Linked DNA regions of Homo sapiens. The protein of the gene in region 3 interacts with the protein of the main gene of each other region in a pairwise test. Each region holds a gene or a part of one and is shown on either strand. Other genes may lie near its edges.

What was found.
Region 1: the proteins of RPRD1B (region 3) and HMG20A interact in binary tests that used the Homo sapiens proteins (3 or more experiments, as listed by UniProt).
Region 2: the proteins of RPRD1B (region 3) and CDCA8 interact in binary tests that used the Homo sapiens proteins (3 or more experiments, as listed by UniProt).
Region 4: the proteins of RPRD1B (region 3) and RASSF3 interact in binary tests that used the Homo sapiens proteins (3 or more experiments, as listed by UniProt).

The regions. Positions count from the first base shown.
Region 1 is NC_000015.10:77,465,867-77,472,893, forward strand, and holds part of HMG20A (high mobility group protein 20A), read left to right. Parts: intron 1-1,228; coding exon 1,229-1,441; intron 1,442-5,043; coding exon 5,044-5,176; intron 5,177-5,916; coding exon 5,917-5,948; intron 5,949-7,027. UniProt on the Homo sapiens protein: Plays a role in neuronal differentiation as chromatin-associated protein. Acts as inhibitor of HMG20B. Overcomes the repressive effects of the neuronal silencer REST and induces the activation of neuronal-specific genes.
Region 2 is NC_000001.11:37,702,512-37,709,538, forward strand, and holds part of CDCA8 (borealin), read left to right. Parts: intron 1-740; coding exon 741-836; intron 837-2,929; coding exon 2,930-3,056; intron 3,057-4,466; coding exon 4,467-4,553; intron 4,554-5,810; coding exon 5,811-5,855; 3' UTR 5,856-7,027.
Region 3 is NC_000020.11:38,064,733-38,071,759, reverse strand, and holds part of RPRD1B (regulation of nuclear pre-mRNA domain-containing protein 1B), read right to left. Parts: intron 5,680-7,027; coding exon 5,504-5,679; intron 1-5,503. UniProt on the Homo sapiens protein: Interacts with phosphorylated C-terminal heptapeptide repeat domain (CTD) of the largest RNA polymerase II subunit POLR2A, and participates in dephosphorylation of the CTD by RPAP2. Transcriptional regulator which enhances expression of CCND1.
Region 4 is NC_000012.12:64,683,494-64,690,520, reverse strand, and holds part of RASSF3 (ras association domain-containing protein 3), read right to left. Parts: intron 5,735-7,027; coding exon 5,627-5,734; intron 2,306-5,626; coding exon 2,068-2,305; intron 1-2,067.

The DNA.
Region 1 (7,027 bases), on a different chromosome or scaffold from region 3:
AATTCTTGTATCCATGAAATATTAACTGATACGGCTGTATTTGTAAAATTATGAAGTAAAAATATTATGTACCTTACATCTTATTTAAAGGGCCAAGAAGAAAGGCTGTGGTGAAACATCAGTGGTACCTCAGTCCTTTTCATTTCTTTAGTTTTTTTCAGAGGTGATTCAATCTTTTGATTTACCTGGTAACTCAACATATAAAGACCTCTGACTATAAAATGTACATCTAGGCCGGGTGCAGTGGATCACGCCTATAATCCCAGCACTTTGGGAGGCTGAGGCTGGTGGATCACCTGAGGTCAGGAGTTCGAGACCAGCCTGATCAACATGGCAAAACCCCATCTCTACTGAAAATACAAAAATTAGCTGGGTGTGGTGGCACATGCCTGTAATCCCAGCTACTTGGAAGACTAAGGCAGGAGAATCACTTGAACCTGGGAGGCGGAGGTTGCGGTGAGCCGAGATAGCGCCATTGCACTACAGCCTGGGCAAGAAGAGCAAAACTCTACCTCAAAAAAAAAATTAAAATAAAATGTACATCTAAAGGAACAAATTGTCAAGCCAAAGAGCTCGTCTTCATTTCAGATATATTATACTTACTAAAATTTTTCTGAGACTTAGATATTAATTTAGTATCTATCTGCTATGCTATGCTATCTGCTATCTGCTATGGGAAATAAGCTAGTCTTTGAAAGTTATCAATGAGCAACTCCCATTGTGAGTTATTTTTAATTTCTGCTACAACTTGTTTCTTCTTTTGCCTGGTGCACGTGACACCATCTTACTCTAATCTGACAATGTCTGCCTCCCTGCCACAATGCTGCATGTGCTGCTGTATTTCCCATTTGGATACTCTCCTGTCAGGAATCAGGACCTGACAGTTGTCTGTGGGACAGTCATATGCATATGAAGGTCAAAGCTGAGTGATCATGGCACCTCTTATTCTCATACATTGAGATTAGCACAAAAATAGCCCTTTAGTGTAACATTTTGTAGTGTGATACATAAAAGAGGTTGCAAGTGAAGCATCTGGAGTTCCTCAAAAATTGCATTGCTGTCATTTGTATATTACCTACAACAGATGTGGAGAGCTTTGAATATCCAGGGCCAAATTGCAACTCTTAATCCTGTTTTGTTTGTTGTTGTTTGTTTTTGTTGTTGTTGGGTTATTTTGGGAGATGGTTGTTGTTTGGTTTTTGGTTTTTTATTTTGTTTTGTTTTGTAGCAACGAAGTAAACGAGGAGGTTGGTCCAAAGGAAGAAAGAGGAAGAAACCTCTTCGAGACAGCAATGCACCCAAATCCCCCCTTACAGGATATGTTCGGTTCATGAATGAGCGTCGAGAACAACTTCGAGCAAAGAGACCAGAAGTCCCATTTCCAGAAATCACAAGGATGTTAGGCAATGAATGGAGTAAACTGCCTCCTGAGGAAAAACAGGTAATTGTTCCTATTCCTGACTCTTTGTTTGGTTTTGATTATATCTCAGAAATAACTTATATAAGAAAAGCAAAGAGGATGGACAGTTGATTCTGCAGTTTTGTCACAGTGCCTAGGAGACCAGAATAGCAGGGTCCATCATAGCAATTTTCTCTAGCCTAGTGATTTTTAAACTATTTGCTAGAGGGGTGTGAGCAGGGAAGGAGTCTAGGACTCCCCTCAACCAAAGCAACACCACTTTTTATACGCTGAGTTCACATAAGATTGTTTTAAGTGGTTCAGTATTAAGAAATCTGTCAATAAAATGTATTCCACTGAGTTAAATGAAAAGTCGTGAATTAAATGAGAAAAAGTCACTTGACACAATTCTGCAGTTCACATAAGATTTTTAAGAAAAAATGTTACTGCTTTAATACTTTTTTTAACTAGAGTTCTGGCAAATTAACCTACTATTGAAAATAAAGCAAGAACAACTTGAATTCTTTCTCCTCTAAGACAGAAACTAACCTGATGGGCAAACTGAAATGAATCCGTTCATTAGAGAGATTTGAAAGGAATTAAGGACAAGATAGCCATGAGCTGGTTGAAGTACCACTAAAGCTGAGCAGTGGTCATGGTTGTGGGAGCTGCTTTGGGTTAAAAGTTCCCAGCATTCCCAGCATCTGAAAGATATCTGTATTTCTTTTACGTCTTAAACTCTTTTATGACTTACACTTTTTAAAAAGGATTCCAGACACACTAAAACCAAATGGAGAAATACTCTCCTGGGAATTAATTGAATTCAGAAATTTTCAAAGAGATCAGATTCAGTTGCAACTTTTGAAGCTCTGTGTTTGTGGTAGCAAGCTAGTAGAAAGCAGTGAATATCATCCATTGTTTTGGCGCTACTGTATAAAAGGATAGTGGGCTGTACATACTATGCTATTCTTTTCTTTTTTTTCTTTATTTTAAAATTAATATGTGCTCATTATTCTCTTTTCAGAGAATACAGAAATGTATAAACAAAAATGTAAAAATAACAGTGCTTATTTCTTGGGATAACCACTATTACGTAGGACAAAGGTTTTGTGTTTGTTTTTGTTTTTTTAACTTTTTTTGGAAATAATTTCAAATACACAAAAAGTTACAAACATAAAAATAATACAAAGAACATCCCAACACTCTTTACCCAGATTCACCTATTGTTAACACATTTTATTCCATTTCTCCATTTGCATATGCACTTATATGCTCAGTCTTTCTTATACTTTTGCATGCTCAGTCTTTCTCTCTCTCTCTCTCTCTCTCTGTCACACACACACACACACACACACACACACTTGCATGTGTACACCCAGACACACACAAAATTTTGTTTTAATCATGTGAGGATAAATTATATACATTGTAGCCCTTTACCCCCAGGATATTTCAGTGTGTATGTCAAAGAATATTTTCTTATATAACCATAGTGTAGTCATCAATTTCATAATTTTTCATTAACAGTGCTTTAATCTGTCATCTATATGTTGACTGAATGTCATTTCTTTATAACATTTTTCCCTTCCAAAACAGGTTCCAGTCTAGGGTCAGGTTTTGTGTTTAGTAGTCAAGTTTCTTTAGCTTAAACTGGGATATTTCCATAATCTTTCTTTTTCTTTTATAACATTGATATTTTTTTAAAATACAGTTCCCTTCTGCTTCCCCCGCTGCTTTTACCTTTAACAGAACATTGCTCATTGTGTATTTTTCAGATGTTTCCTTGTGATTAGATTGAGGTTGCGCATTCTTGGTGGGATTACTTGCATAGGTGGTGGTGTGTTCTCAATATGTCACATATGCAGGCACACAATGTCCTTTTGTTTCTCACTAGTAATGTTAATTTTGCTTACCTGGTACATTATTTAAATTCTCCTTTGTCATTAATAAGTAATCTATGGGGAGACGATTTAAGAACATACAAACAGCCTGTTTTACATCAACATTTTCCCCTAGATTTAGCATCCATTGATTATTTTTGCCTGATTTAATCTTTATCATTATGGTTACAACGTGATGATTTTTCCAACTCCAGCACTCCCTTTACATTTACCAGGTAGCCTTCAGCATTCTAATCTAAGCAAGATCTTGGCTTACTGCAACCTTGACCTCCTGGTCTCAAGCACCCCTCCCACCTTAGCCTCCTAAGTAGCACACACCACCAAAACTGGCTAATTATTTTATGTTTTGTAGAGATGGGATCTCACTTTGTTGCCTAGGCTGGACTCAAACATCTGGGCTCAAGCAGTCCTCCTCTTGCCTTGGCCTCCCAACATCCTGTGATTACAGATATGAGCCACCATGCCCGACCCCCTACCCCCATTTATTTATTTGTTTGTTTGTTTGTTTGTTTGTTTTTTGAGATGGAATCTTGCTCTGTCGCCCAAACTGGAGTGCGGTGGCACACTCTCGGCTCATTGCAACCTCCACCTCCCAGGTTCAAGCGATTCTCTAGCCTCAGCTTCCCAAGTAGCTGGGACTACAGGCGTGCACCATCACACCCAGCTAATTTTTGTATTTTTAGTAGAGATGGGGTTTCAGCATGTTGACCAGTGTGGTCTTGAACTCCTGACCTCAAGTGATCCACCCACCTCGGTCTCCCAAAATGTTGGGATTACGTGCGTGAGCCACCACGCTCAGCCTCTACACCCATTTATTGTATTTGTATGGTAACAAATCATTGGTATTGTGTCTGTTATAAATCATACTAATAATAGTATGAAGTTTTTTCTACTAGTTTATAATTTATTACTGTACTTAATTATTTTGGTGCTTAAATTGTACCAGATTTGGCCAGTTGAGTATCCCCTACATCTGGCTCTTACGCGGGACAAAGTGTTTAACATAATTTCTGAGTGTGTTTTCTGTTCATTTAGAAGCAGTATTTTTATACTTTCTTATACTTCATTTTGATGAATGAAAAGGGCAAAGCATTAAACAAAATAATCCTGGTAGATCAATGAACTTTGTTTAAATAATTAATAGCACAAAGCAATCAAAGCATGTAGATATAGGTTCTCTCAGAGTAGTCCATTTTTAGGTCCATAGGATGAGGTCATTATTTTTATGTTCTTTGTGTCTCCCAGCTTCATTGCTCCAACCTCCTGGCTCTTAAAGGGCCAATTGATGTATGACATCATCCCCTCAAAATGGGCTGGAGACAGCAAAACAAAGTAATATTCTGTTCCTTCCCTTGGGAAGACTAAGTGTGCCTATGTGGTGTGCACATCTCATGAGGATGACTCTAGTGGCCATATAGAGTTCTATCTATAGAGTTAGAAGAATAACTCTAATCATCTTCATGAATTTTTTATAAGAATGATCTCAATAGAACTTGTCTTCATTAGGTTAGAAAAGGCAATAAATATTCTAAAAACTCATAATGACCTATTTACTTTTATAATTGAGAGGTTATATTTTATTCTATTCATACAACTCTTGTTTTTCTGATTCTTTTTTAAGGCATATTCCCTATATTCTTTTCTTCCCATGTTCTAATTGTCCTGTTTTCTTCAAATAGGTAATTTAATTTTATTTAAATAGGATCTCATTTTCTTGAAAATAATTCTGTATTTCTTTCCTAGCGCTACCTTGATGAAGCAGACAGAGATAAGGAGCGTTACATGAAGGAACTGGAACAGTATCAGAAAACAGAGGCCTACAAGGTCTTCAGTAGGAAAACCCAGGACCGTCAGAAAGGCAAATCTCATAGGCAAGGTATCAAAACCAGAACCAAATGTATTTGTAGTTTGTTGTGGGTGATGGAGTGTCATAAAGCCAACTGTTAAGAGTGGTAACTATAAAAGATGTGTTTCTGTTTTTTCTCCACTATCCAGTATTCACTTACAAGCATTATCTTGAAATTTTATTAAAATCACATTGCTCTCATTTAGAAATTTCAACTGGGTTTCCGTGTCTATTATCAATGATTTTGACTTGTCCTCCGAGACCCCTGTTAGTTGCCTGCCCTTCTTTTCCTGATTCCCAGTTTAGGCATTTCTCTGCCTGTAAGCAAGCCTATCTACAAAATTATATCAGTAACTTCCCTTTAACACTTCTAAGCCTTTCATGTGTCATTTTTGAAGCACCATCCACAACTAGCCTATTTTTCCTTAGCCATTGCATCTTCTCTATACTTGGGCATCTAGCCTGCTAAAATTATAGATGTTGTATAAGTAGTCTTTGGTTTGTGTCTTCTGTCCACTCTTCCACCCTTTTCTCCCTAAAGTTAAGAACTGTGTCTGCTGTTTCTCTTATGCCTAATTATGAATTCTGTAGGCATGGGGTTCCCTTACTTTTGTTGGCTGACCGATTAATAAAGCCTTAAGGAAAAATATCATATGTTATGAGAATCTACATATACAAGCAGGTTTTATAGTTTGGCAGAGTCGTATACTTGGGTTTTGTTATTGCTTTCTTTTTAAATGTAATGTTCTCTTATTCTTTTATATTTTTAGATGCAGCCCGGCAGGCCACTCATGATCATGAGGTAATTAGCCATCTGTCTACATATCATATATATGTATTTATAATAATGTTGCTTTTTGAAATGCTATTGGATTTTTTTTTTTTTAATGAATGGCAAAGTATTTCCTATCTCGTAATTCAGATTAAATGAGATACTTTAGCTTGGGGGTTCTTAGCATATGGCAGACACTTACGTTGTGTGTCTGTCATTGAACTACAGCCCCTAACCTCAATCCTTTCCTGTGATCTGAGAATTTTATTGGCTTTAAATGCCAAAGATGGCTGGAATTTGGAATGAAGTATAGAAATGAGGGCTAGCTGAAAGCTATAACATGACCATAGTTTATCATCACCAAATACTTAAATCTGACTCTCAGAAAAGTTGTTATTTAAAGAATCCAGCATTTGCTTAAAGCGAACTGTTCAACTACAATGTCGATAGAGCACAAGCGACAGTATCTCAGGTTTGTTTTTTGTTTTGTTTTGTTTTTTGTTTTTTTGAGATAGAGTCTCACTCTGTCGCCCAGGCTGGAGTGCAGTGGCACAATCTCAGCCCACTGCAACCTCCGCCTCCCGGGTTCAAGCAATTCTCCTGCCTCAGCCTCCCGAGTAGCTGGGACTACAGGCTCGTGCCATCATACCCGGCTAATTTTCTGTATTTTTAGTAGAGACAGGGTTTCATCATATGAGCCAGGATGGTCTCGATCTCCTGACCTCATGATCCACCCGCCTTGGCCTCCCAAAATGCTGGGATTACAGGCGTGAGCCACCACGCCCGGCCCAGTATCTCAGTTCTCACACCTCCTTTCCTATTCCCTCACTTCACTAGCACATGTTTGTGTACTGGCTTCTTTCCTCCCACTTGGTTCAGCCCCATTGTTAGGATTTAGGCCTGTGTTTCTGTGTGTGTATGGGATTTAGGTGTGTGTGTTGTTTCAAATTCTGTTTTCTCCTTCAAACTTTTCTTGTTTCCTCTAACTTCCTTTAACCCTCATGGCTCTCTATACTTGTGTTATGTGCTTAGCTGATCTGACCTAGGGGTTTTGAGGTAATTCAAGGGCTCACACTCTTTGGTTGTAATGTCTTTGTGGACATACACAG
Region 2 (7,027 bases), on a different chromosome or scaffold from region 3:
AGCAGCTTAGGAGAGTAGTCACCGGGATGCATGTCTGTGGAGGAGCGAACTCATTTCTCTTGAGCAGTGCAGCAGCTGCCTGGCACAAGGACAGAATTCCAGCTGGGGGAGCCTTCGCATGAAGAGGCTGTCTCCTTGATTAAAAAGTCAGATTCTGAGGCTGAGTGTGGTGTCTCACACCTGTAATCCCAGCACTTTGGGAGGCCAAGGCAGGTGGATCACTTGAGGTCAGGAGTTTGAGACCCGCCTGGCCAACATGGTGAAACCCTGTCTCTACTAAAAATACAAAAATTAGCCAGGTGTGGTGGTGCATGCCTGTAGTTCCAGCTACTCGGGAGGCTGAGGCAGGAGAATCGCTTGAACCCAGGAGGTGGAGGTTGCAGTGAGCCAAGATTACGCCATTGCACTCCAGCCTGGGCAACAGAGCAAGACTCCGTCTCAAAAAAAAAAAAAAAAGTCAGATTCTGGAGGCAGACTACTTTGGTTCAAAGTTTTGGCTCCATCCTAATTGGATATGTGATCTTGGGCAAGTTTTTAAAACTTGATGCACCTGAGTTTCTGCATCTGTGTATGAGGATGGCAGCAGTGCTGGCCTCCCGTGTTAGAAGGGTCACGTGAGTCGATGTGTGCGAGGCGCCCGGAGCAGTATCTCACAGTCAGCTCTCCACGTGTCACTCCTCTGCTGCTGCCTTCGTGGAACCTGAGAGTTGGCATACCTGATGGCCATTTCTTACCTGTAGGTCAAGCCGTGCTAACACTGTTACCCCAGCCGTGGGCCGATTGGAGGTGTCCATGGTCAAACCAACTCCAGGCCTGACACCCAGGTTTGACTCAAGGTGAGTATCGAGGGAAACACTTGGATTTGATGGGACTCCAACATTGAGCACTACCCAGAGAAGGAGTGTCTAAGAAAATACTCCTAGGCCAGGCACGGTAGCTCACGCCTGTAATACCAGCACTTTGAGAGGCCGAGGCAGGCGGATCACTTGAGGTCAGGAGTTCAAGACCAGCCTGGCCAAGATGATGAAACGCTGCGTCTACTAAAAATACAAAAATTAGTTGGGTGTGGTGGTGCACGCCTGTAATCCCAGCTACTCAGGAGGCTGAGACAGGAGAATTGCTTGAACCCAGGAGGTGGAGGTTGCAGTGAGCTGCAATTGCACCACTGCACTCCAGCCTGGGCAACAGAGTGAGACTCTGTCTTAAGAAAAGAAAAGAAAATAGTCCCGAGTCCTTGGCCTGGGATGCCTTGTCAGAGGACAGTGGCCAGCTGGGTTTCCTGGTGTATGCCTCTCCCTTAAGTGTAGTTTCACCTATCTTCAGTGGCAAAATGATTCTTTAATGGGAGGGAGGTGAATATTCTGCCTGTGATGACTAGGAGGCCTCTAGGTGACGTTTTTGGCCTTTTCTGATTCAAATCAGAAGGTTTTTATTTTATTTTTAAAATATTTATTTATTATGAGGCAGGGTCTCACTCCAATGCCCAGGCTGGAGAGCAGTGGCACAATCACGGCTCACTGCAACCTTGACTTCCCGGGCTCAAGTGCTTCTCCCACCTTAGCTCCCAAGCATGCCACCATGCCTGGCTAATTTTTTGTTTTTTTGTAGCGATGGGATTTCGCCAGGTTGCCCAGGCTGGTCTCGAACTCCTGAGCTCAAGCAATCTGCCCACCTCGGCCTTCCAATGTACTGGGATTACAAGCATGAGCCATCACACCCGGCCTCAAATCAGTTTTTTAAAGATGAGTAGGCACTCTCCTGTACTCTTGGTAGAAGTAAAAATTGATACTGCTTTTTTGGAGGCTGGCATAAGCGAGGATATTCTTGCAGCATAAGTTAATACCTTCCAAAGAACCTAGTTGACCAAATAGGAGATGCTGTATAGCCATTAAAAAAGACTGGATCTGTGTGTGCTGACAGGGAAAGAGCACCGTGATCACAGAGCATCTCCGAGCAGGTTGCTGAACACTGTGCTGTATGATCCCATTTGGTTTTATATACATACAAAGTTTCTGGAAGGATAGATAAGGAATTCAGAGTGGTTACCCCTGGGGAGGAGAGCAAGAAGTGGTTATCTCTGGTGTGGGGAAGTGTTGAAGATTTATTTTCTACTTTTAATTGCCACTTTTTTTTTTTTTTTTTTTTTTTTTTTTTGAGACGGAGTCTCGCTCTGTCACCCAGGCTGGAGTGCAATGGCACAATCTCGGCTCACTGCAACCTCCACCTCTCAGGTTCAAGCAATTCTCCTGCCTCAGCCTCCTGAGTAGCTGAGATTATAGGTACATGCCACCATGCCCAGCTAAGTTTTGTATTTTTAATAGAGACAGGATTTTGCCATGTTGGCCAGGCTGGTCTCGAACTCCTGACCTCAGGTGATCCACCCCCCTCGGCCTCCCAAAGTGCTGGGATTACAGGTATGAGCCACGGCACTCAGCCAGTTCCCACTTTTCTTTACTGTTTGTTTTCTCACATGAATATGTAACAAAAGGCATTTAGGGAAAACTAGGTAGCAGTATTTTAACTGTCTTGAGAAATTAGTATAATGATGTAATATCTAAATCATCCTCCTTTGCCTCTGAAAAATTCCTCTTGATGGAAGCAGCCACGCCTGGAAACAATTAACCAGCGTATTTCTGGCTTTGTGGATGGATGGATGATGGCACCCATATGGAGCTTTGGACCTAAACTTTATGTGGATAAGAGTTGGCTTTTTGTAAGATGTATGTTCAATAATTACAACCTTCTTTCTCCAGCTGTGTTTAGTCATTACTGCTTTAAAACATTTTTTTTTTCTAAATTTAGAACGTGCTTTCTTAGGAATGTATGACTTAAAAACTGCAACTTGAGGCCAGAGTAAGGTTAAAATGGCCTATAGAGTTTGGTGTCATCCAATTGCCAAGCTATCTTCACAGAGATTTTCCCATTCTAGGGTCTTCAAGACCCCTGGCCTGCGTACTCCAGCAGCAGGAGAGCGGATTTACAACATCTCAGGGAATGGCAGCCCTCTTGCTGACAGCAAAGAGATCTTCCTCACTGTGCCAGTGGGCGGCGGAGAGGTGAAGTATTTCCAAGGGAAGCCAGGCCACAGTGTGCTGCTTAGTCAAGCATTTCTTTTCCCTGGGCCCTCACCCACGCTTCACCCTCAGAGTCCTTTCAGTGCGTGGGTCCTGATCTCCACACTTCTGCGGGACTCAGAACCCAGTTTTCTCTCCCAGGTTAGAGGCCCAGACTGCAAAGATCGTTGCTCAGCTCTGGGTTCTGTTTTTCTGTTTTTTGGTTTTGTTTTTGTTTTTTGTGGGTTTTTTTTTTTTTTTTTTGAGATGGAGTCTTGCTCTGTCACCAGGCGGGAGTGCAGTGGTGCGATCTCGGCTCACTGCAACCTCTGCCTCCTGGGTTCAAGCGATTCTCTTGCCTCAGCCTCCTGAGTAGCTGGGACTACAGGCACACGCCATCATGCCCAGCTAACTTTTGTATTTTTGGTAGAGATGGGGGTTTCACCACGTTGGCCAGGATGGTCTCGATTGCTTGACCTCGTGATCCGCCCTCCTCGGCGTCCCAAAGTGCTGGGATTACAGGCATGAGCCACCGTGCCCACCTTTTTTTTTTTTTTTTTTGAGATGGAGTCTCACTCTGTCGCCCAGCCTGGAGTGCAGTGGCACGATCTCAGCTCACTGCAACCTCTGCCTCCCAGGTTCAAGTGATTCTCCTGCCTCAGCCTCCTGAGTAACTGGGACTACAGGCACATGCCACCACACCCGGCTAATTTTTGTATTTTTAGTAGAGATGGTGTTTCACCATATTGGTCAAGCTGGTCTCAAACTCCTGACCTCAGGTGATCCACACACCTCAGCCTCCCAAGGTGCTGGGATTACAGGTGCAAGCCACCACACCCGGCCTCCATCTGTTCATCAACTAACATTTGCCCATCCGATTGTAGTAGGCCCAAGAAGTAGACATGGGGCCTGCCCTTAGAAAGCAGCTCAGTGGTCAAGATGGGTTTGCAATCATGGTACCTGTGATATGCGCAATAATAGAGATGTTAAAGGGTGGTGCAGAGGAGGGCACCACCGAGGTATGCGCTTAGTCTAGAACCCGGACCATGAGCTGTGCCTTCAGCTTTGTATAACTTAAGGGATTCTGAAGCAAGCTGAGCTCAGTGTCTCTGGGCTGCATGGAGCGAGTTGCTGACCTCAGCCCCTGTGAGGGGAGGACGGTTTGTTTCAGACATACTCTGCAGGGCATTTCTTAGATGATGTGCGTGCCTTTTGTGCCCAGGTAATCCAGCCTCCACCCTAGTGATAGTGCTGATGAAGTCATTGTCTCCTTAGAGCTAATATCCTTCCTGCCTGTCTTGCCACTTCTCCATCCCAGCCATTCCCCACCACTAAGTGCAGGATATCAGGGGAACCTAGGGGTTCCGGCCCTAAGGGCCATGGCCAGTTTAACCCACTCCCCTTTCTATTCAGAGCCTGCGATTATTGGCCAGTGACTTGCAGAGGCACAGTATTGCCCAGCTGGATCCAGAGGCCTTGGGAAACATTAAGAAGCTCTCCGTAAGTCTCATATTCATCTCCACACATAGGATGCCTCCAGTAGCTTTCTTGGGCTACCTTTATTTAGGATTGTCTTTTGGGCCTGGGCTAATACTTTCTACTTAAATTTGTGTTGTCTTCCTTCCCCCAAGAGATTTTGACTCTTACCCTACTTAGATAGCAGCAGTTCTGTTCCTCAGTTGATGTTGAGTTTTGTTCAATCCCAGGGTGCCTGCCACAGAAGTTCCACTGCAAAATCAAAATTCTGCCTCATTCAGGCAGTTAGTGCTAGGGGTATGTTAGGTCACTATTGGCCACCAGAAAGTGAAACCTAGAGTAGCTCAAGAATGAGGGTCGGGGCTTGTTATCAGGAATCTTACAGAATCAAAGAGCGAGCTGAACGGCCAAGCCTCTGGAGTGGTGGGGCCCATCAGCTGGGGCCTGTGTGCTCATTTCTCTCACACATCTTCATTCCTCCCTCAGCAGATAACCTTCTCCACAGGCTCCAGGTTCTGTGCTTACTTAACATTGTTTTGCATGTGGCTTTGAGTAACCACACCTCCAATCCCAACTTTATTGCTCTATTGCCCAATTGTTCAATTTCTTGTCTTGGTTTAAATTCTGAAGAGGGCCAGGCACAGTGGCACACACCTGTAATCCCTGCAGCTCAGGAGGCTCAGGTGAGAGAAATTGTTTGAGCCCATGAGTTCAAGGCTGCAGTGACCCATGATCGTGCTGCTGCACTCCAGCCTGGGTGACAGAGAAAGACCTCAGCTCTAAAAATAAAGTAAATTATCAATTTAATTTAACTGAAGAATGTAATGGCTCCGCCAGGGATGAACCTCCTTGGTCTGGTCAGCCATCATCTTGGGTGGTGGATGAAGCACTTAGTGTAAACATGGCAACCTTACCCTCATCCTTCTGTGGGGTCTGAAGGGTACATCCAAGGAAGGGGACAAGGCGGGGCTGGTTTCCTAAACCTGTCTTTCTGAACATAGGCCCAGTGCTGAGATCCCACACACACCTAGCCACCCAAATCTTGTGACTGTCATCCTCTAGCTAGATCTATTGCAATGTTCTTCTCAAATCTATGATACCTTTACTGTCTCACTTGAGTTGTTATTTTACTCCCTTGTTCAGATGAGAAACAGGTTCAGAAAGGTGAATTCATGTGTGATACAGATAGAGAATGGAGGGGCTCAGGCTGACTGTGGGAGGCCAAGGGGCAAGCCTGCCAAGTGACATCTTCTACAATGACCTCTCTCCTTTTCTTTTTAGAACCGTCTCGCCCAAATCTGCAGCAGCATACGGACCCACAAATGAGACACCAAAGTTGACAGGATGGACTTTTAATGGGCACTTCTGGGACCCTGAAGAGACTTCTTCCCTTCAGGCTTATTGTTTGAGTGTGAAGTTCCAGAGCAAGGAGCCATGTTCCTCTAAGGGAATTCAGGAATTCAGACGTGCTAGTCCCACACCAGTTAGGTAGAGCTGTCTGTTCACCCTCCCATCCCAGCTGATCCCAGTCACTGCTTGCTGGGGCCATGCCATGGAAGCTTCCCATCAGTCTCCCAGCTGAATCCTCCCTGCTCTCTGAGCTGCTGCCTTTTGCCTCCTGCAACTCAACATCCTCTTCACCCTGCCCTGCCTGCAGTTGAGGGGGCGAAGAAGAACCCTGTGTTCTCAGGAAGACTGCCTCCACCACCGCTACCCAGAGAACCTCTGCATCTGGCATTTCTGCTCTCTATGCTTGAGACCGGGAGGTTTAGGCTCAGATAAGTGAGCTCTGGGCCATGAGAGGGTAGGTCCAGAAGGTGGGGGGAACTGTACAGATCAGCAGAGCAGGACAGTTGGCAGCAGTGACCTCAGTAGGGAACATGTCCGTCTACCCTCTCGCACTCATGACACCTCCCCCTACCAGCCCTCCTCTTCCTCCTCCTCCTCCTCCTGTGGGAGGTGGTCAGTGGGACTTAGGGATCTTTCACCTGCTGTGCCCAGTAGTTCTGAAGTCTGCTTGTGGAGCAGTGTTTTATGTTTATCCCTGTTTACTGAAGACCAAATACTGGTTTGGAGACAACTTCCATGTCTTGCTCTTCTACCTCCCTAGTTAGTGGAAATTTGGATAAGGGAACTGTAGGGCCCAGATTCTGGAGGTTTTATGTCATTGGCCACAGAATAACTGTCTCTAAGCTATCCATGGTCCAGTGGTCCCTGCCAAGTCTGTAGACTTCAGAGAGCACTTCTCTCTTATGGGGTTCATGGGAACAGGGGTGGGTGTGACTTGCTTGGTGGCCTCATTCCATGTGTGCCTGTGCCTGGGGCATGGACTTTGTTAAGCAGAGTCAGCAGTGAGGTCCTCATTCTCCAGCCAGCCTCTCTGCCCTGGAGAATCATGTGCTATGTTCTAAGAATTTGAGAACTAGAGTCCTCATCCCCAGGCTTGAAGGCACATGGCTTTCTCATGTAGGGCTCTCTGTGGTATTTGTTATTATTTT
Region 3 (7,027 bases):
CAAAATCACAATGAGATAAACCTGCACATGTAGGTTGTCGAAAATAAAGAGACAATAACAAATGTTGATGAGGATGTGGAGAAACTGGAACCCACGCACATTGCTAGTGGGGATGTAAAATGATGTAGCTGCTGTGGAAAACAGTCTGATGGTTCCTCAAAATGTTACATAGAATTACCATATGACCCAGCAATTCCACTCCTAGATTTATACATAACCAAGAGAAATGAAAAGATATGGCCACACAAAAACCTCCACATGACTGTTTATAGCAACACTATTCATAAGAGCCAAAAGGTGGCAACAACTCAAATGTCCATAGACAGGTTATAAACTGTGTCACATCCATACAACAGATTAGTGTTCTACCATAAAAGAGATGAAGTACTGATATATGCTACAACATGGGATGAATCTTGAAAACATCGTGCCGAAAGAAGCCAGACACAATTATGTTTTGGAACTTGATACAATACTGTGAACGTACTAAATGCCACCAAAATGTGTGCACTTTGAAGTGCATGGTTAATTTACGTTATATGAATTTCACCTCAACTAAAACAATAAATCTGCAGCTTGGAACAAATTTCTCAAGAGCTCTTCCCTGTGTGGCATATCATCTTTGTGTGTGTGCACCATGTGGCATGTGGGTCAACACAGGACTATCTGCTTTCAGTTCTAGATCGCTGACAGTCAGACACCATGATCTGAATAAAATTCACAGTTAAGGCCAGGCATGGAGGCGCATGCCTGTAATTCCAACACTTTGGGAGGCCAAGGCAGGTGGATCACCTGAGATCAGGAGTTCGAGACCAGCCTGCCCAACATGGCAAAACCCCATCTCTACTAAAAATACAAAAATTAGCTGGGTGTGGTGGCATGCGCCTGTAGTCCCAGCTACTCGGGAGGCTGAGGCACGAGAATCGCTTGAACCCGGGAGGCAGTGAGCTCAGATTGCTCTACTGCACTCTAGCCCTGGGCAACAGAGCAAGAGTCTGTCTCAAAAAAAAAAAAAAAAAAATCACAGTTAAGAAGGGAAAACTGCAGGTTCCTGACCTTTTTTCTTTCCTTAATACTTGTACAAATAGGTTTCTTTCTCACACACACACTCTTCCACATGCACTGATCATGCTAACAGAACATGTCTGTATCATGCTTTATTCACGCTGACAAGACAGGAACCCTATCCAACCCACTCACGCTATGTCTTATGAGCTTTGAGCAGACATCTGGGAGTAATGTAGTCACCTCTGTCAACCACAAACAAAGCTTCTCTTTGCTCTGGAAGTGAAGCTGGAAGGCTTTTCTGGTATCTTTGGCCTTTGCCTTTCTGAATGGGCTTTCTTCTATACCCTCCACATTCTCTAACCTCCTCTTTGGGCTGCCATTTGTGCTTCCTTCCACGTGCCTTCTCCATTTCTAGGTTTTCTCATGTTCATGACAAAAACATTACCCACAGATTTTCAGCAGCATTCCTTCCACCCTTGCCTGGTGTTTAAGGGCCAACATCATAGGCCAAAGTCAATCATGACACCCTGAAGCAAAAGTCAAAAACAAACAAACAAAAAAAGATGATTATCTCAGAATAAAGCATAATTCTACTTAAAGGAAAAAAGAAAAGTAGTACAAAGGAGAAAACCTACAGAAACTTCTAAAAATGGTTACCTTTCCGTACTAACATATTCTTTACAACCAATCATTAAATCAGATTTGTTAAGCCACTTTTAATGCAACCTTAAAAAAAAACCCTTTTCTCTATAGAAAAAGGTTACATCAAGTGATGGATTTCACAGAACAAGTATTTACTGAGGAACAAATATGTTCCTGGCACTGTGAGAGCACTCAAAGAGTATACAGTCTAGCAAACTTTGGGAGACCTGCTGAAGGCATTACAGTTTCAGAAACTGTCCATGATTTGATAACTCTCACAATTTTAATAAGCATCTGATCAAATTATTATTAGCATCTTCATTTTTTTCTTGGTCTATTTCAAGGTAGACACAAGTGAGAATATTTTCCTTACTGACAACCTATCTTGAATTCTACCCTAACCCCTTGTTTGCTGCTATTTCCCCCTGACTAGAGCATAAGCCCTTTGAGGGGAGAAGTGCATCGTGCCCATCTTTGTACATCTGGCTGGCACAGGCTTTGCTGACTCCCTGAATGAATACGTAGCTTCTTAAAGAGCACAGACCTTAATCTCCCACTGGTGGTCTGCAGCACCTCCTTCCCACATCTGACTTTGTCTTTCTTCAGATACCTGTCTGGTCCAGTCTAACTGCTCCCCATTTATAAACATGCTTCTCTTCTTCAACTGCTAGTTCCTTTTACAAAAAGGTTTTATTGCCTGACAGGAAGTTTGGACTTACCTTAAACCACAATCAGAACCGCCAAATGCCTCCTTAATCTACATTATGTACGATCAAGTGGTTTGGTTTTATGTTCACCTGTGTTTTTTATACCAGAATATGATTTCCTCGAGGGAAGAAACACAATCTCCTACTTTGAGCCGTAATTCCCTCTCCTACATCCTAGGCTCTGAATCATCACACGCCCTATCCTGACATGCAGGAGCCACCGACATAAAATTCCCAAGTGAAAGAGAAAAAGATGCTTATTACATAAAGCAAGATACAAAGTTAAAAAGGAAAGCACAAAACCTAAGTATATTAGAGCTTTGGGATGAAAACAGACTCGCAAGCAAATAACTACTTCTCCAAAGAGTTCTGAGAATTTCATCTATGTATATCCTGAAGGCAATGAAAGGATTAAAAAATAAAATATTTAATTAGCATTCTGATTTGGAAGTTTTAAAACGGACTGGCTGTGTTACAAAAATGAATGTTAAAAAAGTGGGTAAACTTTATGTACTGCCCCATCACGCAGAGAGACTTTTGGACAATCTGAAGGAATTCACAGTATTCACGCATCTTTCAAGGGGCATACATTTATCAAGTTCGGCCACCACCATAGGGATGTGATGGGACAGGACCAGTCTATTACAGAATGTGAGAGAAAAATCTTAGGTTCAGGAGAGCAGACTGCCTAAATTTTTAGCAAGCGTGGATAAAGAAAAGAACTAAAACCATCTCTCAAATCTTATATTGTGAAGCGGCCAGATCACTTGACGTCAGGAGTTCAAGACCAGCCTGGCCAATATGGTGAAACTCTGTCTCTGCTAAAAACAAAAAAAATTAGCCGGGCGTGGTAGTACATGCCTATAATCTATAATCCCAGCTACTCAGGAGGCTGAGACGGGGGATTGGTTGAGCCTGGGAGGTGGAGGCTGCAGTGAGCTGAGATCACGTCACTGCACTCCAACCTGAGTGACAGAGCGAGACTCCATCTCAGAAAAAAACCTTATACTGTATCTAGTCATTTGCTTTCTTTAATGCAGCAAATCGGCTCTATTTTTTACAATAAATGGTTCTGCTCATGTGCCTCGGAGACATGGTTTGAGATAAGAACCTTCAGTTCAGACTCTGTACGTTGGTTCCAGTGGTGGGGCCTTTCTGTTCCGCTTCTTCAGCAATGGAATGCCAGCCCCATTCCACTGAATGAACCGCGCAGAGCAACGCAGACTGGAAAGTTACAGAACGCATCCAAAGCTCTAATCTGTTTCTCCACCTTAATGCCCTCTCGTGGCGTCCAGCAAACCACTAGTTCTACAAAAACCAGAATGATTCCCCAACAATATACAGAGCAGAGTGCAACTGTGGGGAGGGAAAACAGAACAAAGAGTTAACCAGCTCTACCAACCCGATCTCCTCAAAGACTCTGTCCTCTATGGTTGCTTGCCACGTTCTACCCAACAACAGCTGCTCATGATAATCAATGTCTGACAGATCAGAGAAAGCCCTTAATGTGTCGCCAAGGGGCAGTTCAACAGATGGCATGGTGACTTACAACCAGAATCATTAATTACACTCTCTTATTAGTCCCGGGGCACAGTGCTGAAAATGCTTCCTCAGTGAAAGATGAGCATTTCAGATAAATGACCGTCTGGTACTGCCTGTAAAACTCCCTTTAGGATCTCTGGTCAGTGCCGATGTCTAAATCTAAGCTGTAGGATTTTTACAGCCCTTTCCCATCTTCCACATTCAAGCAGGCTACGAATGTGAAGTTCCTGCTACCACTACGCAACACAGTTCCCAGAATCACTGCAGGTAAGGATACGGTAAAAAGTGCCTGCCACTCATTTCCCCTCAAGTCAGATGACCATGCTGAAAGGCAAATACAATGATCTCAGCCTCAGAGATAGCTCAATGTTCCCTCCTTCTGTGCCAGAGCACGTTTCCTGAGCATGGAGGTGACATGGCTCTCCCTGTCCCTTGTCTACTCTGAGTGGGATTTAAGAAGTATTTCTTGAAATACAACATGACTGGCTCTCTAACTCAGAAGTGTCCTCCTTCACAAAACCACTGGCTGCAACTCTTTTCCATATCTCTTAAAAAAAGAAGAGCAGACATTCCTGAAAAGGAAGTGCAGCAGCCCGGGGCAGCAAAGTTCCCAAAAATCCACACTGCTGGCTCTGTTATCCCACGGGAGCAAGTACTGAGGGTAAACTACCATGTACTTAATTACGAAGCCAAACAAGTGTATGGTGAGGAAATGTTTCTGAACTCCCTCCCCAAGGTCACTCAGACTAATGTCCTCAACCCAGGGTAGAAATGAGGTCTTTTACAGTTTGAGAACTGTGCTATATAAATACTACTGTGACATTTAAGAGCTAATTACAGATAGATCTTGGAGGCAGACAACTTCTTGGCCGCAGCATGGATAAAGTCAGAAATAAACCTCCAAACGGCTGGGCGCGGTGGCTCACACCTGTAATCCCAGCACTTTGGGAGGCTGAGGTGGGCAGATCATGAGGTCAGGAGATCAAGACTATCCTGGCTAACATGGTGAAACCCCGTCCCTACTAAAAATACAAAAAATTAGCCAGGCGTGGTGGTGGACGCCTGTAGTTCCAGCTACTTGGGAGGCTGAGGCAGGAGAATGGCGTGAACCTGGGAGGCAGAGCTTGCAGTGAGCCGAGATCGCACCGCTGCACTCCAGCCTGGGCGACGGAGCGAGACTGCGTCTCAAAAAAAAAAAGAAATAAACCTCCAAATGACTTGAAAGAAACATTTTTCAGCACTTCCCAAATACTACCAAACATATTCTTTGGTTTTCACTGATTTGCTATCCTTTTTGTACCTCAATTCGTAATTTTTTTAAAAACATGAGTTCAAACGAAAGCAATATTAAGATCCTAAGGCTGTGATTAAGAGTTCACTGTTTGTTTCCTACAATCCAGTTTGTTCTGTCCTGGACATATAAGAACATGACTTCAATTTTTAACTGGGCTCAAATAATTACAGTATCTGATGGATGTTCAGAATTCACATCATGAATTTTTAAACGATAAAAATGTTGTTAATTAAAGCATAATAAAAACCTCCTAATGTGGGCTACAGGAAGGGAAACGTGGGCAGTCTGGGTCTGCCTTCAATGCACTCACCTCTAGTTTTTTCTCCTTCTCCGACAAAACATCTTTCTGATTCTGGGTATACTCCACCAACATCCGAGCCAGCTGGCGACGGTCCTCCAGTTCTGCTGCCAGGCGCCCGTTATATTCTGCTAGTAACAGACATGCTTCATCTACTGTTTTTGAAAGACGTTCAGCTGCCTCTTTGTCTAAGTACAAATGAGACCAAAAAATAGAGAAAATATACAAATCACACAGGTATGACTACAAACATTTCTGGGGGAGGTTAACGGTTTCTCTCCCAATATACAGAGTCTGAGAATAAGCCAGCACCTGTGGACAAACAATGAGTTGATTAAGCAAGAAATCCAAAGGCATTCACTCTGTCAACAAGACAGGACACTACTCAATTACCTGAAGTGAGGAAGCTGTACATGGGGGGAATCTGGCAAAGGCTTTCTAAATGCCTGTTCCTGCAAAAGCTCTCCTGACAAAACAAGCATAAAGAGATATTGAAGATCACCTGTGAAAAAATCGTTCCTTGTCTCTGAGAATTGCAAGTGCTTTCATTTATATTACGGTTGGCCCCTATATCTGTGGGTTCTGTATCTGTGGATTCAACCAACCATGAATGGAAAATACTCAGACCAAAAAACCCCACAAACCAATAAAAATAACAATTAAAAACCCAATTTTAAAAATACAGAATAACAACTATTTACATAGCATTTACATTGCATTAGCTATGATAAGTAATCTAGAGAGTATTTAAAGTATATGGGAAGATGTTTGTTGGTTATAGACAAATCCGACACCATTTAAGGGCCTTGAGCAACCTTGGATTTTGGTATCCTCAGAAGGTCTTGGAACCAAACCCCCATGGATATGGAGGGACCACTATATTTCATTAAGTAGTCTTTTTACTTTCCACTGGAATAAAAAATAGCATGCACTTATTTATTGGGTGTGGGAACTAAGACCCCCTCCCCGCCAGAAAAAAAACTACATGACAGGTTTCTATATGCAGTGAGCTGAGATGCTGGGGCTCGAAGCCAGATCTCTAAAATGATCTATAGCACTCTATCTCTTAAACTATGTAAGCCTTGGACGTGGGGATGAACTTCTTCCTACATTTGACAAAATGTAAAGTCTGATAAGAAAGAGGTTTTTAAATGTTTCTGAACATGACCCACAGCAGAAATACACTTATGTAAATACACAGAAAAATGAAAGCAGCGTTTCATAAAATACCCATTCTTACTATGTGTGCTCTATCTTCTATTTTATCTCTTTTTTTTTTTTTTGAGATGGTGTCTTGCTCTGTGACCCAGGCTGGAGTGCAGTGGCATGATCTCGGCTCACTGCAAGCTCCGCCTCCCAGGTTCATGCCATTCTCCTGCCTCAGCCTCCCGAGTAGCTGGGAGTACAGGCCCCCGCCACCACGCCCGTCTAATTTTTTTGTATTTTTAGTAGAGACGAGGTTTCACTGTGTTAGCCAGGATGGCTTTATTCCATTTTTCAAAAACTGTTGGTCATTAGCTACCAGACTGATTTCAT
Region 4 (7,027 bases), on a different chromosome or scaffold from region 3:
CTAGGTGACAGAGTAAGACGCTGTCTCAAAAACCAAGGCCAGGCGTGGTGGCTCATACCTGTAATCCCAGCACTTTGGGAGGCCGAGACAGGCAGATTGCCTGGGGTCAGGAGTTTGAGACCAGCCTGGCCACCAACATGGTGAAACTCTGTCTCTACTAAAAATACAAAAGTTAGCTGGGCATGGTGGTGGGCACTTGTAATTGTAGCTACTTGGGAGGCTGAGGCAGGAGAATCACTGGAACCCAGGAGGCGGAGGTTGCAGTGAGCCGAGATTGTGCCACTGCACACCAGCCTGGGCAACAGAGCAAGACTCCGTCTCAAACAAACAAACAAAAAACAAATTTAAAAAAAAATGTATATACCATCCAAAGAACATAAAAACAAGAGTTCTAAAAGCAAATCTCTCTACAGATTAATTAAGAATTAGCGAGGCCAGGCGCGGTGGCTCACACCTGCAATCCCAGCACTTTGGGAGGCTGAGGCGGGCGGATCACAAGGTCAGGAGATCGAGACCATCCTAGCTAACACAGTGAAATCCCGTCTCTACTAAAAACACAAAAAAATTAGCCAGACGTGGTGGCGGGCGCCTGTAAGTCCCAGCTACTCGGGAGGCTGAGGCAGGAGAATGGCGTGAACCCGGGAGGTGGAGCTTGCAGTGAGCCAAGATTGCGCCACTGCACCTCCAGCCTGGGTGACAGAACGAGACTCCGTCTCAAAAAAAAAAAAAGAATTAGCGAATTAGCAGCTACAAACCAAGCAATCAGAATATAAGCTCCGGTAGCTTCAAGCACAGCTATATATGTCTCATGCTAGACACACACATACAGTGACATTGCCAATCATGTTAAAGGATTTGCCAGCCATGGGGGTAATATTTCAACAAGTCACGATTACTTTCAGATTGTACAGCTAAAGTCCAGGTGAGCAGGCAAAGAAACTGGCAGATAAAAATGCCATCGAGCTTCTCTACATTATTGTGGCACTTCCAGATGCACTGCATCGCAGGTGCCAATTTCCCTATAGATATAAGCCCCCACAATACTAAGCTTGTGACCTCTGAAGGTAGGAACCCTGGCCTGTTCATCTTTGTATTCCACAGGGTCTAGCCCCATGGTTTGTTTTTAAAAAGATGTATGCATACTCAGCAATGAGCTGGGTTTCATCCTGTGTAACTGAAGAACATTACTATCATGTCAAGGTTAATATATTTTCTTCTATAGCTACATTAGGCTTTACCGAGAAAAACCAAAGAAAGCTTAAATAGTTTATTGTACACACACACACACACACACACACACCCCGATTTCAAATCGCATGTAGTGAGTCACTGAATCACTACTGTCCACCAATGTTATCAATTTCTGGTCACTGCCTGACCTGGAATATCTCATTCTGTTTCACGCAGTAATTTAATATTTAATGTTCTCTTTCTATCCCCTGAATGTGGATATGAAGTTTTAGTCAGACCCTAGATCAAAATGTTATTCACTCATTTGATGAGCCTCTGGGGGACAGAGTACCAAAATGTCCCGGCGTAACACCAAGTGAGACAAGCTAAGGCAACAGGAGAGCCCAGGGCTGGGCCGTTTCCATCAGTACGCTGAAATGTGCTGTGATGCACATGTGCCTCCCCAGTCGCAAGATCTCAGCACACATCCACCAAACCACTCCACGTACTGATGCACATCAAATGTGGAATGTGCTATTGAAAACTTCAAACACAGAGGCACTCTTTTGTGTCCTAAAGAAAACTAAAATCAAAGCCACTCCTAACAACCACCAAAAACAGCCCCCGCCCCATCCCCCCACCAACACCACAAAATACTCGTAACTGCCAATCACATATGGATGCTTCCAAGCTCCTCAGACCCTCAACTGTCCAACTCAAAAATATGGACAGCCAGGAAGCACTAAGTGCATGCTAAGATCACCATGGCTTCCAGCATCGGACTCCAGGCTCTGACACAACTGACATGGATGAGACCCACCAGTCTTCCCTCTGCTAATGAGAACAGCAGATGCAAGTAGAAGCACAGACCATTTTCCTTTTAAGCTGGCAGCGTACCTTGGTCTTCCCTGTGACAACGCTTATAAAGTGCAAACTTGGCAGGGCTCTCAGTCACGAGAAACTTTTTGAGCAGGGCCTCGATCACTTCCCCGACAGTGTTTGTGCTGCTGATATGAAGTGTATTCATACAGCCATTGCTACTGGGAGAGAGTTTTCCAGAATTTGGAGAAGTCTGTGGAGGTTTGCAGAGTTCCATCTGTACTTTAATGAAGCCAGTGTAAATCCCATTTGAATTCTGAAGCAGGGAGAGAAGCACACACTTAGCTGGGTGGATGGTGGCACTTTAGGGAAGAAGCATATCAAAACAAAACGGGAAGGTGAAACACTCCTTTGTTCTCTTCTCTTGAGGTTTGTGGCAGAACTTCACTAAAGATTGCCCCCAAAGGAATGACCTCAGAGGGCGGTTAACACACCAGGCAAAGTGCTTCCAGAGGCAAGGTCTGCAGGGCAGATGTGGACACTGAAGAAGCCTCCTGATGCTGTGGCTGACTGCCGGCCCCAGACTCATGCCTCTGAAGCTACTGGCAAAAGGTCAGGGTCCATTTGCGAGGTTACAATCCAACGGAGCAGATGCTAGCCAAACCACAAAACTTATTAAAGCTTGGGGGATATGTCTAGGCTACAGGCTCAAAGGAAACAACATCCTCAACTGGTGACTATTATACACAAAAGGAAGGTCACAATTAGGGCTCTGAAATACTGAAGTCAACAACAAGGGGACAGTAAGAAAACAGGCTATTTTCATTCCTAGTGGCTATATTCATATGCACTGAATTACTAACTCTGCTTAAACTTTTTAATGCAGCATATATGCCATACAGCATAGAATGCATTTCGGGTCTCTTAAGCAGCATTTTAAAAAAAAATTCAATCGCTTGAAACCAGAAGGTGGAGGTTGCAATGAGCCAAGATCACGCCATTGCACTCCAGCCTGGGCGACAGAGCAAGATTCTGTCTCAAAAAAAAAAACAAAAAACAAAAACAAAACAAAACAAAAAAAAACAAATTCAAACCACTATACTTCACAGTACAGATCTTAAAAACAACTACCTTCACTGATGGTAGAATTACTATTTCTTAGTTGCCAAAAACAGTAATAACAGTTTGGTCTTCACTTTTTATTTTTATTTTTGTATTCAGTATATTTGGGGCCAGGCGCAGTGGCTCATGTCTGTAATCTCAGCACTTTGGGAGGCCGAGGCGAGCAGACCACTGGAGGTCAGGAGTTCGAGACCAGCCTGGCCAACAGGGTGAAATCCCGTCTCTACTAAAAATAAAAATAAAAAAAAATTAGCTGGGTGTGGTGGCAGGTGCCTATAATCCCAGCTACTCGGGAGGCTGAGGCAGGAGAATCTCTTGAACCCAGAGGTGGAGGTTGCAGTGAGCCGAGATTACGAGATTACGCCATTACACTTCAGCCTGGGCGACAGAGACTGCATCTCAAAAACAAACAAAAACAGTATATTTAGAAAAGATTTATTGTACTGTTTTATTAAACTGTCAAGTGTTACATATAAATGCCACAGTTAAAGTAGAACATTTAAAACTATCTTTATGGTGTGTTATTTTTCTTCCTTCCCACAAGATCAATTTTCAATCCTAATTCTCTAGTTTGTTCTTTTTTGAGACAGGGTCTCACTCTCTCACCCAGGCTGGAGTGCAGTGGCACGAACACAGCTCACTGCAGCCTCAACTTCCTGAGTTCAAGTGATCCTCCTGCCTCAGCCTCCTGAGTAGCTGGGACTGCAGGCACCCGCCACCATGCCTGGCTAATTTTTCTATTTTTAGGAGAGATGGGGTTTTGCCATGTTGACTAGGCTGGCCTTGAACTCTTTTTTTTGAGATGGAGTCTTGCTCTGTCGCCTAGGCTGGAGTGCAGTGGCACGATCTTGCCTCACTGCAAGCTCTGCCTCCTGGGTTCACGCCATTCTTCTGCCTCAGCCTCCCGCGTAGCTGGGACTACAGGCGCCCGCCACCACGCCTGGCTAATTTTTGTATTTTTAGTAGAGACAGGGTTTCACTGTGTTAGCCAGGATGGTCTCGATCTCCTGACCTCGTGATCTGCCCACCTCGGCCTCCCAAAGTGCTGGATTACAGGCGTGAGCCACCGTCGAACTCTTGACTTCAAGTGATCCACCCGCCTCAGCCTCCCAAAATGCTGAGATTACAGGTGTGAGCCACTGTGCCCAGCCTAAAATTTTTATCTTTAAAATGACATGGATAATTTGTATCTGTTTTAGTCTCTATCAGGAAAGGAAAAAAAAAAAACATAGCAAGTGGATTTCTCCTTTGATGAAAAAATGTGTTTGAAAAAGAAATCTTGCTGCTGGAATGATGAAGAGTTATCTTGGGATTCTCTGCTCCTCTCCCCTCTTTTTGGAGGAGTTCTACCAGGGAGGGGTCCTTTACCACAAGGGTTTCTATCTGAAAGCTCCTCCCCAAGAATCACCGATTCGGTAGGGCCTGTTTTAAACCAATCACCTTGTCCTTTACCAAACTCTGTCAGTTCACAGTAAACAGACTGAGAGACGGGGATCCAAGTGCCCTGGAAACTGGCGCCAAGGGCTGACAAGTGCCATGAAGAAGGCGGGCCACCCAATGGGTAGGCGAGACCTAGATGCCAGCTAAGTTTAGAGGAACATGAATACTCTAGCTCCGCTGTCAGCTCGTTTCCCTATCCCCAGGCCCTGAGGCTTCTCCCTCCTGTACGCCGACTCCCTGCATGCTTCAGTGTGGCACAATGCTGTGGAAGCCTGCGACAGCGACGTGGAAGAAACTGAGTATTAAGTACCTTGTCTTACACTAACGACCGGCAGAGAAAACTATCCTATTATATACCTCTATATTCCAATCCATGGGCTCAAAATCCTTTCCCTGACACTTCCATATTTATTTTGTACAAGACAAAAACTTAGGGGCTTCTGATACCTGTAATCCCAGCACTTTGGGAGGCCAAGCTGGGCAGATCCCTTGAGCCAAGGAATTTGAGATGAGCCTGGGTGATATGGCAAAACCCCGTCTCTACAAAAAATACAAAAATTAGCTGGGCATGGTGGCAAGCACCTGTGGTCCCAGCTACTCGGGAGGCTGAGGTGGGAGGATTACTTGAGCCCGGAGGTCGAGGCTGCAGTGAGCGGTGATCGTGCCACTGCTCTCCAGCCCAGGTGACAGAGCAAAACCTTGTTTCAAAACAAAACAAAACAAAAAACCTTACCTGAGGTCTTCTTAGAATCTGAGTCACCATTTCTGTATGTTAGGCAATGATGCTAAAAATCCTTTGAGGAGGGAGGGGTGGGTCACAAAATCTTTTAAAATAAAATTATAAGTGTTTCACTTTTTTAAGGTTAACCCAGCAACTGATTTTTGAGACAAAGCTACTTCACAATACAGATTTAAATGGAAAGCCACAGAAATATTCCACTTTCCTGTTCTGTATACCTTGACTACTACACTTCTACAAATGCTATTCAGATATTTAGAACTATAGATTGTAGTACCAACAATTTATATTTGTCTTTTGACAGGTGTCAACCTAAATAGTATTTTGAGTGCTTACCAAGGTCATCTTCAACTTGTCTGTGACTGCTAAGTTGTATTTATGAACTTTCTCTTTGATCTCCTCTTTGCTGAGGTAACTGTGGGTTTCCTTCTCTTTCTCAACATCCTAGAAGAAAAACAAGACATGTCACATGTGAGCAATCATAAAAAAAAGTGCGGATAGGCCGGGCGCAGTGGCTCACGCCTGTAATCCCAGCACTTTGGGAGGCTGAGGTGGGCGGATCACCTGAGGTTGGGAGTTCAATACCACCCTGACCAAAATGGAGAAACCCTGTCTCTACTAAAATTACGAAATTAGCTGGGCATGGTGGCGCACGCTTGTAAACCCAGCTACTTGGGAGGCTGAGGCAGGAGAATCACTTTGAACGTGAGAGGCAGAGGTTGTGGTAAGCTGAGATCACGCCATTGCACTCCAGCCTGGGCAACAAGAGCAAAACTCTGTCTCAAAAAAAAAAAACAAACAAACAAACAAACAGATAAGTCAGGATTTTTTAAAAATTCCACACAAGGGCCGGGCACGGTGGTGGAAGCCTGCAATCCCAGGACTTTGAGAGGCCAAGGACGGCAGAGCTTAAGCCCTGGAGATTGTGACCAGGCTGGGCAACATGAGGAAACTCTATCTCTACAAAAAATACAAAAATTAGCTGGGCACAGTGGTGCACACCTGTAGTCGCAGCTAGTTAGGAGGCTGAGGTGGGAGCATCACCTCAGCCCAGAGGTCGAGGCTGTAGTGAGCCATAATTATGCCACTATGCTCTAGCCTGGGTGACAGAGTGCGACCCTGTCTCAAAAAAAAAAAAAAAAAAATTACAACCACACAAGAAGAACCTTATTGTTCTTGCATGTTACCTTGAAACACACACACACACACACACACACTCACTCTCTCTCTCTCTCTCTCTCCTTCTCTCCCTCGCTGCTTCTCTTTCTCTCTTACCTTCAAACTCTCCAGGCTCATCCACCAATTACGGTTCTCATTCTTTCATACTACAGTCTTCCTAGGGGATATATTTTTTAAGAAAACTAATTTGTCAGCAGCTACAAGTAACACTTCATTACCAATATATTCTGCAAAACTGTCATTGCTAAATTTCCCTTCTGCAAAAACATCATTTCCTCAGCATGCCTGCTAGATTGGCCATTTCTATTTTAAACAACATTTAAAGACATTTACCACAAGTTTCTCTTTAGCAACTTGTATTAACTCTGTTGTCTTTATAGCTTTACAATATTTATTGGCAAAAAGTACAGCAGTTAATCAGTATTAACTGGCACTATTCACGGACTCATACTAATCACTGACCTGTAAACTGTACACAACTACCAGAGGATAATTCATCTTCCAAACAAATCCCCAGGCCAAGATACAAGTAGCCAGACTTCTCCTTCCCACCCTTCC